Regions from separate parts of the Homo sapiens genome. Here region 2 is linked to region 1. Evidence: fine-mapped expression QTL. A gene starts in region 1. The other region holds a variant in brackets. All regions are shown on one strand. Distances are from middle to middle.

Region 1 (4,512 bases):
CACTGCACTCCAACCTGGGCGACAGACCGAGACTCCGTCTTAAAAAAAAAAAAAAAAAAAAAGGCCGGGGTGGTGACTCACGCCTGTAATCCCAGCATTTTGGGAGGCCGAGGCAGGTAGATCACGAGGTCAGGAGATCGAGACCATCCTGGCTAACACGGTGAAACCCCGTCTCTAATAAAAATACAAAAAATCAGCCGAGCGTGGTGGTGGGTGCCTGTAGTCCCAGCTACTCGGGAGGCTGAGGCAGGAGAATGGGGTGAAGGTGGGAGGCGGAGCTTGCAGTGAGCCCAGATAGTGCCACTGCACTCCAGCCTGGGCGACAGAGCAAGACTCCGTCTCAAAAAAAAAAATAAGATAAACTAAAAATAAATAAATAAATAAATAAAATTACAAAAAAATCCAAAAAAATTTGTTTTAAAATTTTTAATGAGATGAGGTGTCACTATGTTGCCCAGGCTGGTCTTGAACTGATGAGCTCAAATGATCCTCCTGCCTTAGCCTCTCAGAGTGCTGGGATTACAGGCATGAGCCACCACACCCGGCTAATTTTTTGTATTTTTTAGTAGAGACGGGGTTTCACCGTGTTAGCCAGGATGGTCTCGATCTCCTGACCTCGTGATTCGCCTGCCTCGGCCTCACAAAGTGCTGGGATTACAGGCATGAGCCACCGCGCCCGGCCTCTGGGTGACTAAGTTTTAACATTAAGTAACTCATTAACAATTTCTAAGGCCCTTTATGTCACAACCTAAGTGAAAAGCCATTATCCTTTGCCACAAATAGAAGACACCTGTGAAAACACGACAGTTTCCTCTAGAAGGCTCCTATAAGTCCCAGTCTCTAGTTCGGAAAGTTCCAGGAGCACTGAGTGGGGAGCCCTCTCCTTTAACAGGGGGCCTCAGGATCCAGCCCACTTCAACCTCTGGCTCGGCCACCCCCTTCTTGGCATCAATCTCTCTGTCCAGACCCCTCGAAGCTCCCGATTCCACTCAGCCCCAGGTGTGGGCCGGGGCTGAACTAGGAAGACAAAGCCGCATTCAATCTCAGTCTGAGTCCAGCCCCTCGGGCCTCCCCCGGGCGGGTGGGGCAGAGGTCCCTGCAGCCTCCACCAGGAACCGGGCCCCTAGGTCTGGGAGGTCCAAGCCGGCAGCGGGCCAGGCGCTGCCCAAAGCCTGCCCAGAGGCGGCGCTGGGCCAGTCCCTTTATAATTTGCGCCCTTCCTGGTTCCACAGAGGATTGAGGAACGCCTGAAATTAGAACGCAAATGGGCCGTGCGTGGTGGCTCACGCCTGTAATCCCAGCACTTTGTGAGGCCGAGGCGGGCGGATCACAAGGTCAGGAGTTCGAGACCAGCCTGGCCAATACGGTGAAACCTCGTGTCTACTAAAAATACAAAAATTAGCCAGGTGTGGTGGCGGCCGCCTGTAGTCCCAGCTACTCGGGAGGCTGGGGCAGGGGAATCGCTTGAACCCGGGAGGCGGAGGGTGCAGTGAGCCGAGATTGCGCCACTGCACTGCAGCCTGGGCAACAGAGCGAGACTCCGTCTCAAAAACAAACAAACAAAAAACAACAAAAAACAACAACAACAAAAAAACAATGAAGGCGTGGGCCCCCATCAATATCGGGCTGGGCTGGGCGGGGCGAGGTGGCCCCTACACCACCGGGGGCAGGGCCCGTTGCTCCCGTTAGCGGCGCTCTCGGGCCGCCCCTGCCCCGGGAAGCCGGTACGGTTCTGGGCTGGTCACTGCTCTGCATCCACGAGCATCGGCCCTGATACCGCCTAGAAAGGCCCATCGTTCCCGCCTCCCGGGCCCCTGCGCGCCTCCGTCCAGAGGCCCAGAGGAAGCTCCTGAGCGGGGAAGCGCCCTGGGCGGCAGCGAAGGCAGCGGTCGCTCCCGGCTTCAACCGCCCAGTCCCCCGCGCCACCCAGAGCCCCTCACGCCCGGGAAAGAGCCCCGAGAACGTGCGAATGGGGTCGGGGTCCGCGCGCGGAGGAGATGTTGCTGAGAAGGGTACCGGGGTCCCGGAGCGCCGCCCCCGCCGCCCGCCCCCCGCCCCGGCTGCGGTCGACCTGCACTCCCACTCCAGCCTTACCTGAGGCCGACTCGCACGAGCCCACGCGGGGCTGCGGGAGCCGATCGGGATCCCGGCCGCCGGCCCCCACCCCACCCCCTCGCGGCGCCGGCGACGGCGGTGCTGCGGCCCCTTTAAATCCGGGCCGCCCCGCCCTGCGCCGTCGACTCCGCGGCGGCCCCAGATCCAGGCCCCAGATCCAGGCCGGGCCGCGGCTCTCGCCGCCCAGCCCAGCCCAGCCCGGCCCGGCCCGGCCCTGCCGCGGAGGCGAGGCCGCCAGTGTCCCGCGCCCCTGATATCTGCAGTGAGCCTGATACCTGCCTCTGCCCTTCTGAGCCTGTTCCTCTTCCCTGAGTACAGGGCACAAAGCTTGCGCCCTGAGGGGCGGCCGGCGCGCTCCCTGGCCCGGTCCCCGCCCGGCCCCGGGCCCCCCGCCCCTCCCCGACCCGGGGCCGGGGCCCCTGCCGCCGCCGCCGCCGCCTTCCGACCCCTGCGCCCCGGCCCCGGTCCCCCGGGCCATGCAGCCTCGGCCCCGCGGGCGCCCGCCGCGCACCCGAGGAGATGAGGCTCCGCAATGGCACCTTCCTGACGCTGCTGCTCTTCTGCCTGTGCGCCTTCCTCTCGCTGTCCTGGTACGCGGCACTCAGCGGCCAGAAAGGTGAGCGCGACCCCCGCCCGGCCCGCACCTGGCGCACCTGGGCGTCGGCGGCGGGAGCGGGCCCGGCGGTGGCCGCGGAAGGCGGCCGGAAGCCGACGCAGGCGCCCCTTCCCCGCCCGGGCGGCGCGAGGACGCCCCTCCCACCCTCCCCCACTTGTTTGCTGCTGGAGCCGCGGCGTTCTCCTCGGGCCCGGGCCGCGCCCGTGGGTGCTCCGGACCGGACTCCGCGGGCGCAGCTGTCCCGACGCTGAGCTGGGGACCCGTGGGGTTCTCGGAGAGGGGCAGAGACCCAAGGTCACAGAGGTCCCGGAACGCCAGCCACAGCCACCTGGGCAGGAGCTGGGGCGGCGTGAGGGACACAGGCGCGAGGGCACCCCCCCACCCTGCTGCCTGCTGCCCCGCGCCGGCCTGGGCGACCCCGGCGTGACACCCGGTCCTGGGACTCCCTTCGGCGCCCAGAACGCGTCGGCAGCATCCGGCCTGTGGGAGGGAGGGAGGGAGGGAGGGAGGCGTCCTGAGGCAGCCCGGCCCCTGCTGCCCTGCGCTCCCGTGCGGCCCCAGCCCGTCCTCCGCACCCCGAGCTTCCCGGGCTGGCCCCCGCCCTCCGCGTGCGCCCAGCGCTCTTGCAGGCGGAGGGTGCGGGCCGATCCCCCCGCGCCGCCCCGCTGGCCGGTCTTGGCGATGGTGGGGCCGAGTAGGGCCTGAGCCCTCGGAGGCGCTCTTCCCCCGGCCTGGAGGTTCCGGGAGAGTGGCCTCCTGCCTGCCTGCCTGCTGGAGGCCTAAGCGGGCTGAGTCCAGCTGCCCCTCGGCCTCCCCGCCACCTGCTTCCCTGTTTCCCTGTCCCGGAGCGCCATCCCAGAGAGGCTGCGGAGGAGGGCGAGGGAACCTGGACCCTTCCGGACCCTCCGAGCTCCATCTACCCACGCCGAGCTCTGCCAGCACGCCCGCCTGCCGCACTTGTTCTGCCAGAGCAGAGGCCTGGGCTGGCCTTGGGGCTCCAGGGCCAGAGAGGCATCACCCAGGGACTCTGCGGGGAGCCTGCCTGACACGGGAGGGATGGCTGGGCAGAGGCCGTGCTGGCGGGGTATATTATCAAGGGCAGGCATGGCTGGGGCAGAATTCTCTGTAGGTAGGGTGTGTCACCTGGGGAAGGACATTCTGGGTCCTTGGCAGGGTGACTATAAAAGCACACTGGCATGAAGGCCTAGGTGGGGCCATATCTGAAGGGCTGGGGCATGCTCTTTGAGTCGTGGGTAGAGCCGTGAGCCCTTGCCCTTTGTCCTGAGCCAGTGTGTGCCTCCCGCAGCAGCCACATGCCCGCGGATTGATGTCAGGAGCCACCTCTGCAAGCCTGGCTTACCACAGGGAGCCAGGCTCCAGGACAGCAGAGTGAGGGAGAGGCACTGGCTCCATGGCACCCACTGTGTCTGGGGGGCATCCAGGAGGCTGGCTCTCTGAGGGCCTGGGGAACAGGAGAGCAAAGAAGGGGAGCACTTAGATTCACGAGCCCAGCCCCTAGGGGATAGAAGCCTAAGGATCCTGTGAGGTATGAGTATGGGGTGACATAGGCCTCCCTTGTCGAGGGGCTGTCACTGTTTCTGTGGTGACCCAGTAGTACCAGGTCTTTGGAGGCCTCAAGAGAAGCTGGGAATCTGGGCTCTTATGTGAACCCATCTCGTTGTCACATGTAGAAAATCTGTCTTAAACCCCTGGTGAAACCAGACGTAGCCAGTCGGAGGCCAGATTGGAACCTGGCCTCCACTTTGCAGCCAGCGGGGGTC
Region 2 (4,000 bases), 120 kb before region 1:
TGAGGCAAGACAATTGCTTGAGCCCAGGAGGTTGACGCTGCAGTGAGCTAGGATCGCACCACTGCACACTCCAGCTTGGGCAACAGAGTGAGAGCACCTCAAAAAGAAGAAAATAATAAAATAAATAAATAAATAAATGAAAAAACAGAAGAAACCCAGCCATGCTTCTCTAGTTCCAATGCCTGTTATTTCTCTTTTTGGTTGACAGATGCGTAGGGCAAGGCATGTGAGAAGCAGCTTGGAGTTCAGTGCCCTCCCCTACCGGTACCTCTACGTGTTTAGCTATCCCCGAAGTATCCCAGTCCCAATCTTTTGGGTTTTTATGGAGGCTTCATTACGTGGGCATGACTGATTAAACTGTTGGCCATGGGCGATCAACTTAACTTTCAGCCCCTCTCCGCTCCCTGGAGGCTGGGGGGTGAGGCTGAAAGTCCCAGGCCTCTAGTCCTGCCTTGGTCCTTCTGGTGACCAGCCCCATCCCGGAGCTACCTGGGGGCTGCCCGCCTTCACCCACCTCTTTAGCATATGAAAGATACCACTGTGGAGATTCTGAGGATTCTAGCAGTTGTAGGCCAGGAAGCCCGGATAAAAACCAAATACACTTTTCACAATATGGCAGATAGCTTTAATTCATCCTGAAGAGAGGAAACTCCCCTGTCATCAGCTCTTTGTTTTTCATCTTCCTCCCTTAGTGCTGTTGGATTGTGCTGATGCTTCTGGGGGCTGAGGATCCTTTGTCAGAAATGAAATAGCTCATATTTTATGTGGGACCTTGCTCTTAGAGGGCTACTGTGGATAGATAGGAAGCATTTTTGAATTGATCCCATTTTAAATTTTTTATTTATATTTAATTTTTTTTTGAGATAGCCTCACTCTGTCACCCAGGGTGGAGTGCAGTGGCACCATCTTGGCTCACTGCAACCTCCACCTCCCAGGTTTAAGCAATTCTCCTGCCTTAGCCTCCTGTGTAGCTGGGATTACAGGCACCCGCCACCATGCCTGGCTAATTTTTATATTTTTAATTCACCATGTTGGCCAGGCTGGTCTCGAACTCCTCCTGACCTCAGGTGATCCACCCACCTCGGCCTCCCAAAGTGCTGGGATTACAGGCATGAGCCACTGCGCCCAGCCTGTATTTATTTTTTTTTTTTTCAGACAGAGTTTTGCTCTGTTGCGCAGGCTGGAGTGCAATGGCACAATCTCAGCTCACCGCAACCTCCGCCTCCTGGGTTCAAGTGATTTTCCTGCCTCAGCCTCCCGAGTAGCTGGGATTACAGCCATGCGCCACCATGTCTGGCTAATTTTGTGTTTTTAGTAGAGACAGGGTTTCTCCATGTTGGTCAGGCTGGTCTCGCACTCCCAACCTCAGGTGATCCACCCGCCTTAGCCTCCCAAAGTGCTGGGATTACAGGCGTGAGCCACCACGCCCAGCAGTAATTTTTATTTATTAAAAAAAAAAAATTGTTTAGGGACAGGGTCTCACTGTGTTGCCCAGGCTGGACTTGAACTCCCGGGCTCAAGCGATCCTCCCACCTCAGCCTCCCTAGTAGCTGGGATTACAGATACTGACCATCAAGCTGGACTTCATGCCAATTTTTTAAATGCAGAAGACTTTTAATATAGAAAAGTTAAGAAAACAGAGGTTGCCCTGCAGCTCATGAGCTAGCACTGAAATGCTTTCATTTAATACTCGTCTGTTGAGTAATCTGCTGAGATTATATGCGCAAACCTCCGTGCCCATCAAGTTCGAGAATTTCTAATCCTAATTTCAAGACCTGTAAAGCTACAGTAATCAAGACAATATG[G/A]TGTTAGTGTTGTTAAAAGAAAAACTTTAGGGAAACTAAATTTAACAGAGTTTAATTGAGCAAGAGTGATTGAAGAATTGGGCAGCCCCCAGGACCGAAATAGGTTCAAAGCAACTCCAGGGCTGCACCGTGGTTGGATTTATGGACAGAAAAAGGGAAGTGAGGTACAGGAAAGGGAAGTGAGGTACAGAACCAGCTGGATGGGTGAAGCTCAGCCTTTGCCTCACTGAACACGCTTTGCACTGTTGGCCACCTGTGATTGGCTGAAACTCAGCCGCTGGGATTGGCTGAGACTCAGCTCCTTGGTACAAGAATCGGTTACAGTCTGTCACACATCCATTTAGGTGACAGTTCACTGTGTATGGAGAAACCTTTAGGCCGAACTTAAAATATATAAGGAAGCAGTTTAGTCTAAATTTAATTTAACAGCATAAAGACAGACAAATGGATTGCTAGAACAGAATAGTGCCCAGAAATAGACCCACACATTTACAATCAATAGATTTTCCATAAAGGTGCCAAGACAGTTCAGTGGGGGAAAGGATAATCTTTTAAACAATCGACGACGGAACAATTGGATATCCATATGCAAAAAAAAAAATGAACTTCAACTCTTATTTTCTGCCATTTTCAAAGATTTACTTGAAGTGGACCATCTAAGTGTGAGAACTAAAACTATAAAGCTTCTAGATGAACATGTACGAGAAAATCTTAGTGACCTTGGGATTCTTAAATCTGACACAAAAAGCACAAACTATAATAGGAAAAAATCAATAAATTTGATCTTACCAAAATTTGAAACTTTTAATCTTCAAAAGACATTGTTATAACAATGTCAAGGCAAGTCACAGACTGGGAGGAAATATTTGCAAAATGTATGTCTGGCAAGACTTGTATCGAGGATTATTATTATTATTTTTTTTTCTGTAGCACAGGCTGGAGGGCAGTAGTGTAGTCTCGGCTCACTGCAGCCTCTGCTTCCCGGACTCAAGCGATCCTCCCACCTCTGCCTCCCAAGTAGCTGGGACTACAGGTGCTCACCACCACACCTGGCTACTTTTTGTATTTTTAGTAGAGATGGGGTTTCACCATGTTGCCTAGGCTAGTCTTGAACTCCTGAGCTGAAGCCATCTGGCTCAGCCTCCCAAAGTGCTGGGATTACAGGCATGAGCCACTGTGCCCGGCCTAGAATTTTTTTTAAACCCTCATACTTGATAACACGAAGACAGCCCAAGCCGGGCGTGGTGGTTTGTGCCTATAATCCCAGCACTTTGGGAGGCTGATGCAGATCGCTTGAGCTCAGGAGTTCGAGACCAGCCTGGCCAACATGGTGAAACCCCATCTCTATTAAAAATACAAAAATTAGCTGGGCATTGTGGCCCACGCCTGTAATCTCAGCTACTTAGGAGGCTGAGGCACAAGAATCTCTTGAACCCAGGAGGTGGAGGTTGCAGTGAGCCGAGATGGCGCCATTGCACACCAGCCTGGGCAACAGGGCAAGACTCTGTCTCAAAAAAAATTAAAAAAAGAAATTTTTTTTAAAAGCCCAGTTTTTTTAATGGACTAAAGATTTGAACAAAACACTTCACAAACGAAGATACACGGTTGGCTAATAAGCCCATGAAAAGATGCTCAACGTCACTAGTCATCAGAGAATGCAAATTAAAACCACAATGAGAAGCTCCTACACTCCTGCTAGAATGCCTAAACTTTTCCAAGACTGACCATGTCAAGTGTTTGTGAGTATGAAAAGGAGCTGAGACTACCATAGGCTGCCGGTAGGGCCATCTTTTTTTTTCTTTTTCCTTTTTTTTCTTTTTTCAGACGGAGTCTCACTCTGTCACACAGTCTGGAGTGCGGTGGTGCAATCTCCGCTCACTGCAACCTCCGCCTCCTGGGTTCAAGTGATTCTCCTGCCTCAGCCTCCCGAGTAGCTGGATTACAGGCACCTGCCACCATGCCTGGCTAATTTTTTGTATTTTTAGTAGAGACGGGGTTTCACTATGTTGGCCAAGCTGGTCTTGAATTCCTGATCTCGTGATCCACCCACCTCGCCTTCCCAAAGTGCTGGGATGACAGGCGTGTGGCGCGATCTTGGCTCACTGCAACCTCCACCTCCTGGGTTCAAGCGATTCTCCTGCCTCAGCCTCCCAAGTAGCTGGGACTACAAGCACATGCCACCATGCTCAGCTAAT

What was found. PIP is the estimated chance that this variant, and not a neighbour inherited with it, causes the effect. A credible set is the group of variants that fine-mapping cannot tell apart.
Region 2: its variant is the best candidate, but not a certain one, in a credible set for the expression of MGAT4B in whole blood (TOPMed, PIP 0.57).

Annotation. Positions count from the first base shown.
Region 1 is chr5:179,804,706-179,809,217 of GRCh38, reverse strand. MGAT4B (alpha-1,3-mannosyl-glycoprotein 4-beta-N-acetylglucosaminyltransferase B) reads left to right here and starts at 2,352. Exons shown (of 15, transcript NM_014275.5): 1 at 2,352-2,731. The coding sequence starts at 2,635. It also overlaps a transcript of SQSTM1 not described here. RefSeq lists silencers at 1,608-1,777, 1,948-2,507, 2,738-2,807, 2,938-3,067, 3,078-3,497 and an enhancer at 2,535-3,196.
Region 2 is chr5:179,921,647-179,925,646 of GRCh38, reverse strand. It overlaps a transcript of RNF130 not described here. Among named protein-coding and RNA genes, the nearest start is that of TBC1D9B, 16 kb to the right of the region's middle. The variant G/A (reference allele first, on the strand shown) is at 1,806.